Regions from separate parts of the Homo sapiens genome. Here region 1 is linked to region 2. Evidence: fine-mapped expression QTL. A gene starts in region 2. The other region holds a variant in brackets. All regions are shown on one strand. Distances are between the middles of the regions.

Region 1 (2,916 bases), 26 kb after region 2:
TTCTGGGCAGTTCCTAAAGGCACAGGTGGCATGGAAGAAATCATTCCATTTTCGTCTCCTCCCCTTATTTGATTGGTGTCTGGTTACCAAAAGAGTCATCAGGCCCTTGGATTACCTTCTTGAACTGATCTTCTAGATCGCAAGTCTAGGTTTGACACAGGAAAGAGAAGTTAACGCAGGCACACTCTGCCCCATCTCTACAAGGGAAAGACCAGCTTGCCTTCAAGATTCCATAGCTTCTCATGCCTTCTTTGCCTCTTCCTTTTAGTTTCTATAATCCTTCCCTTGAACTCCCATCACTGGAAGTCATCAGTAAATGCTATCCCCCAAAAATAAATGGGTTTGCTTGTTTGTTTCCTGCCCAGAATTCGCTCTCCTGGCATCAGCCCCAGATTTTCTTTAGGAAGTCACCCTTCCCTACTCTTGGTCCCTATGGTCTTCATGGTTGCACCACCTGCATCTACAGATGAAATCATGTGATCAAGGGAACTGCCACATTTTTGCACCCACAACAATTGGTTCATAGACGGGGACATCACCCAGTCAGATCCTATGAAACACCGTGAGAATCCTGGGTCCCTCAGTCTTTCCCACCAGACTGACTCTGAGAAGATATAAGAAGTTGATAAAGCTGTCTTGCACTTATTAGGCAGAGTCTATTGCAAAAGGAACTAACATGGGTAAGAACGGAACTGAAAGAAACCGGGTTCTGGTGACACTGTGAGTTCCTGCGTTAGGCAAGGCCTAAAGCAAGAATTATTCTTGGAATTTTGTTTAAGCCAGTTTGGATCCAATTTGCAACTGAAAAAGTAATGGACACATGAGCAATTCTTACACTTGTCTTAGGATATTTCACCAGAAATAAATTAGTGTCTTATTCTGTCCCAGTTTAATTACTCACCAAGACTGCCATCATGTTCCCCCAAATGCAAAAAGCCTTGTTGCTGAAAAAGAAAAAAACAAGCAGCCACGTCACGGAGGAAGAATGCAGATTCTGGGTCTTGTCACATATTTGGCACAATTTGTGAGCCCCTCACCATTTTATAGAAGTTAAGGGATGAGAGATTAAGGCCAAGTCTCCGCCATAGAAATATTGAACATGTTTTGTTTTTTAGGGAGAGTGATTCCATTCATTCATTCCACAGATACTCTTTTTTTTTTTTTTTTTTTTT[TTTTTG/G]ACAGAGTCTTGCTTTATCTCCTAGACTGGAGTGGAATGGCATGATCTCGGCTCACTGCAACCTCCGCCTCTCGGGTTCCAGCGATTTTCCCGCCTCAGCCTCTGGAGTAGCTGGGATTATAGGTGCCTGCCACCACGCCCAGCTAATTTTTTTTTTTTATTTTTAGTAGAGACAGGGTTTCACCATGTTGGTCAGGCCGGTCTCAAACTCCTGACCTCAAGTGATCTGTCCACCTCGGCCTCCCAAAGTGCTGGGATTACAGGCGTGAGCCACCGCACCTGGCCGTTCCACAGATATTCACTGAGCATTCATATTATGCCAGGTAATAAATTAGGACGTGGGGTGACAAGTGCACAGACGTGGTCCTCACCTTCAGAGAATCTACCTTTAGGCCTCTAGATCCCTTACCTAAATTGTGCTGACAGTATAAATTTGCACAGATGGTAAATTACTTGTCAGTCACTTCTGTCAAGATCACAATTTCCAACATAAGTGGTATTTGCGTTAAGGTGGATTTACTGTTCATCTGTATTTTCAGGACACTCAGGAAGCAAGCAAGGCTTTGGAATTAGAGCAGGGTTTCATGTATCTTTATATTCTCTTGGTAAGAATGAAATTGATTAAATCTTTTTAAGGGAATGATATAGCAATATCTATTAACATTGTCATGTACGTGCTTTGTGGCAGAAATATTCACAAAAAATAACTTTTTAATTTTTTTTTTTTTTTGACACGGAGTCTTGCACTGTTGCCCAGGCTGGAGTGCAATGGTGTGACCTTGGCTCACTGCAATCTCCACCTCCTGGGTCCAAGTGATTTCCTGTGCTTCAGCCTCCCAAGTAGCTGGGATTACAGATGTGCACCACAACACCCAGCTAAGTTTTCTTGTTTGTTTGTTTTTGTTTTTTATATTTTTACTAGAGATGGGTTTCACCATGTTTGCTGGGCTGGTCTCGAACCCCTGACCTCAAGTGATAAGCCCGCCTCGGCCTCCCAAAGTGCTGGGGATCACAGGAGGGAGCCACTGTGCCCAGGGTAATTTTTTTTAGAGAGAGGGTCTTGTTCTGTCTCCCAAGCTGGAGTGCGGTGATGGGATCATAGCTCACTGTAGCCTCAAACTCCTGGGTTTGAGCAGTCCTCTCACCTCAGCTTCCTGAGTAGCTGAGGCTACAGTTGCATGCCACCGTGCCTAATTATTAAAATTTTTTAAGGGATGGGGTCTCGCTATGTTGGTCTTAAACTCCTGGCCTCAAGCAGTCCTCCCCTCCCACCTCAGCCTCCTGAGTAGCTGCGATTATAAACGCACAAAAAATAATTGTAACAAAATGTTTCATTACCTACTGTTTTAAGTATTTAAAAACATAGAAACAACCCAAATATCCAAATATGTACAGAATTAAACATCGTTCAAGATATAGTATTTAGTGGTGGGCTGCGGGGGAGGGAAGTTATGATACTATTTGTATAATATAGCCTCACTTTTGTAATAAACAAGTAAATTAAAGTGTTGGTAGATACAGGTATGTTTGCAGATGCCTAGGGAAATAGATTTGCAAGAATAGACACTGAAGTAGGCCGGGCGCGGTGGCTCACGCCTGTAATCCCAGCACTTTGGGAGGCCGAGGCGGGCGGATCACGAGGTCAGGAGATCGAGACCATCCCGGCTAAAACGGTGAAACCCCGTCTCTACTAAAAATACAAAAAATTAGCCGGGCGTAGTGGCGGGCGCCTGTAGTCC
Region 2 (2,916 bases):
AAAATATTTTCTTGTAGGTAAAAACTTGCTGAACCCACCGGGCGTGATGGCTTACGCCTATAATTCCAACATTTTGGAAGCCGAGGCGGAAGGATCGCTTGAGCCCAGGAGTTCGAGATCAGCCTGGGCAACAAAGGGAGACGGCATCTCTACAAAAATTTTAAACGTTAGCCGGGTGGGGTGGCGCGAGCCTGTGATCCCAGCTACTCGGGAGGCTGAGGTCGGAAGATCGCTTGAGCCCAGGAGGTCGACGTTGCAGTGAGCCATGATTGCACCACTGCATTCCAACCTGGGCGATAGAGTGAGACTGTCTGAAAGAAAAAAAAAAAAAGGCTGAATCCTAGATGCCAACTGGAAGGCTTAAGACATCTATCCCCTTTTGCAAATCAGTGGGAAAATGCACTAAAGGAAAAAAAGGTAACAGAAAAATCCCTGAATATTTTTGCAAAGTTCTCTACATAAAAATGTTACCAGCCCTCCAAAATATGTCCAGGGGCCCCTTTTCACTCCCTAACTCGGCTTCATGGTCTATCTCTCTTACCCTCCTTCCAGTGCCTGTTTTTGCATATGTAAAATGGGGGTTTTAAAAGTGCCTATCACAAGGGTGGTTGTGAGGCACAGTTGAGGTAACTCCTGTACAGTGCCTGGTACAAAAGCCCTTAGCAGAAGTAAGATTAGGGGGAGGAGGAGTGAAAATGTCACAAATCACTGGGGAGGCCTTTATGTCAGTCCCCACCCTGCCATTAACTGCTTAATTCACCTATCCTCAGTTTCCGCATCTATGAAATAAGGGAATCCTTAAAACCCCTTCCAGTTTTATAATCCGATTGTGCCTTCTTTGCTAGGCTCTTCCAGTCCCCCAGAATCTGGAAAATAAAGTCGATTGAAATCAGTCTCCTGATAGTAACTGTTAGGCTGTATTGAGAATGAGATAAGCATATAAAGTGTTTGCTCGTCAAGTACCTGGGACATGGTAAGTGCTCTGTAAACGTTAGGTGTACTTGCTAACTTTTATTTCCTCCCACAAGAATGTGAATCCCATAAGAGCAAAAACCCTGTAGGTCCTGTTCAACTGTGTCCGGAGCACCTGGACCGGTATTTGGCACATCTTGAATTGAACTGAACTGAACTGAATTGAATTGAATTGAATTGATAGTCTAAGCATCCTGCCTCTCCAGGTTCCCTGGAATTCAGTTTCCTCAAGGGCAGATAAAGGAGTCACTAAAATCCCTTCCAGTCCTACAGCTTTAGGATGGTTCTTATCCCTCCTTTTCTCGCCTAGGAGTCTGAACGCCCAGGTTGAAGTTCAGACCTCGGAAAACCCTAACCCACCTTAGATTTGGAACGTGAGCCTGGGGCCTGGGGCCTGGGCCCTCCCCCGTTGCCATGGAGCGGCTCCGCCCACTGGCGCTGCGAATCCCGATCCCTGATTGGCTGGGCGGCCGACTCCCTCTCTGGATGTGTCTGCTGCCGCCATTGTGCGGCGCTGGTCCCCTCAGAGGGTTCCTGCTGCTGCCGGTGCCTTGGACCCTCCCCCTCGCTTCTCGTTCTACTGCCCCAGGAGCCCGGCGGGTCCGGGACTCCCGTCCGTGCCGGTGCGGGCGCCGGCATGTGGCTGTGGGAGGACCAGGGCGGCCTCCTGGGCCCTTTCTCCTTCCTGCTGCTAGTGCTGCTGCTGGTGACGCGGAGCCCGGTCAATGCCTGCCTCCTCACCGGCAGCCTCTTCGTTCTACTGCGCGTCTTCAGCTTTGAGCCGGTGCCCTCTTGCAGGGCCCTGCAGGTGCTCAAGCCCCGGGACCGCATTTCTGCCATCGCCCACCGTGGCGGCAGCCACGACGCGCCCGAGAACACGCTGGCGGCCATTCGGCAGGTGAGACCCCCACGTTCGCGCCCCTCGGTCCTCCCGAGAGCTCGGACTTCTACTTTTCCTTCCCAGGGTTCCCCGATCTTCTCAGGACGGCCTTCCCACTTCCTCATTCGTCCACAAGGCACACTCCCGGCCCTTGATCGCTCCCAGTGTCTAGGGATCTCCGGACTTGAGGTTTTATATTTACAGAAGACAGCAGATATGTATATAGTTTCTGTGCGCCTGACGCTAAGGTTACATACAGCCAGGAACAAGGTCAAAAGTGTCCCTGGTTTACAGAGTGTACATCGGAATGGGGGAGGCAAGCCTTAAACAAGTAAACACATAAATGAGATAACTTTAAGAGAGTGAAAGGTGCAATGAAGAAATCGGGGGAACTCGAAGGAAAGAGTTACGCTATTTTATTTAGATGGAATAGTCAAGAGAAATCGTCTCCGAAGAAGCAACATTTGAACAGAAACCGGAATTATAAGGAGCCAGGCAGGTGCAGAAGGTCCTGAGATGGGAATAATATAGGGGTGTTCAGGTAACAGAAGAGGCAGTGTGTGGCCTGACTTCAAGGAAGAGAACAAAGACTGGTGTGTGAATGAAGTAGAAAATGGGTCAGGTCAAATAGGTTCTTGGTCAGTAATTGAGGTTAGTCTAAATAGATCACCCTTCACAAGACATACGTTTGCTTGTCTTGTAAATCACTTGAGTCATTTCCTTATCACCTTTTCCCCAGACACACACATTCGCACTCGCACAACCCTGGCAGCTGGACTCACATCAGTTTCTGCCCCCTCCTTTTCACAAGGCACTCCTGAAACTTTTGATACCTCCCAGCTCTTGGCATTCTCCTAGCTTCATAATAATGACAGCTTACAGAGAGGGCTTTTCAGTGGATTAGGCACTTTTGCATCTGTGTAAATATATCTGATTCTCTTCTTTTTTATTTTTCTCTCTCTTCTTCCTTCCTTCTTCTTCTTTTTTTTTTTTTTACTTTACAGAGTCTCACTCTTTTACCCAGGCTGGAGGGCAGTGGTGCAATCTCCACGCACTGCAACCCC

Which allele goes with the higher level. Positions count from the first base shown, and alleles are read on the strand shown. Sizes are in standard deviations (SD) of each study's normalised expression.
In carriers of allele TTTTTG in region 1, the expression in CD8 T cells of the gene that starts at base 1,476 in region 2 tends to be higher than with G alone (large effect, 1.0 SD a copy in CEDAR).

What was found. PIP is the estimated chance that this variant, and not a neighbour inherited with it, causes the effect.
Region 1: its variant is the best candidate, but not a certain one, in a credible set for the expression of GDE1 in CD8 T cells (CEDAR, PIP 0.86).

The regions. Positions count from the first base shown.
Region 1 is chr16:19,495,149-19,498,064 of GRCh38, reverse strand. It overlaps TMC5 (transmembrane channel like 5), which reads right to left. Exons shown (of 22, transcript NM_001261841.2): 21 at 902-944; 22 at 1-145. The coding sequence ends at 99. Among named protein-coding and RNA genes, the nearest start is that of TMC5-AS1, 8.7 kb to the right of the region's middle. RefSeq lists a silencer at 1,344-1,555. The variant TTTTTG/G (reference allele first, on the strand shown) is at 1,173.
Region 2 is chr16:19,520,658-19,523,573 of GRCh38, reverse strand. It overlaps GDE1 (glycerophosphodiester phosphodiesterase 1), which reads left to right and starts at 1,476. Exons shown (of 6, transcript NM_016641.4): 1 at 1,476-1,870. The coding sequence starts at 1,610. RefSeq lists a silencer at 1,515-1,684 and enhancers at 1,795-1,964, 1,275-2,009, 2,135-2,194.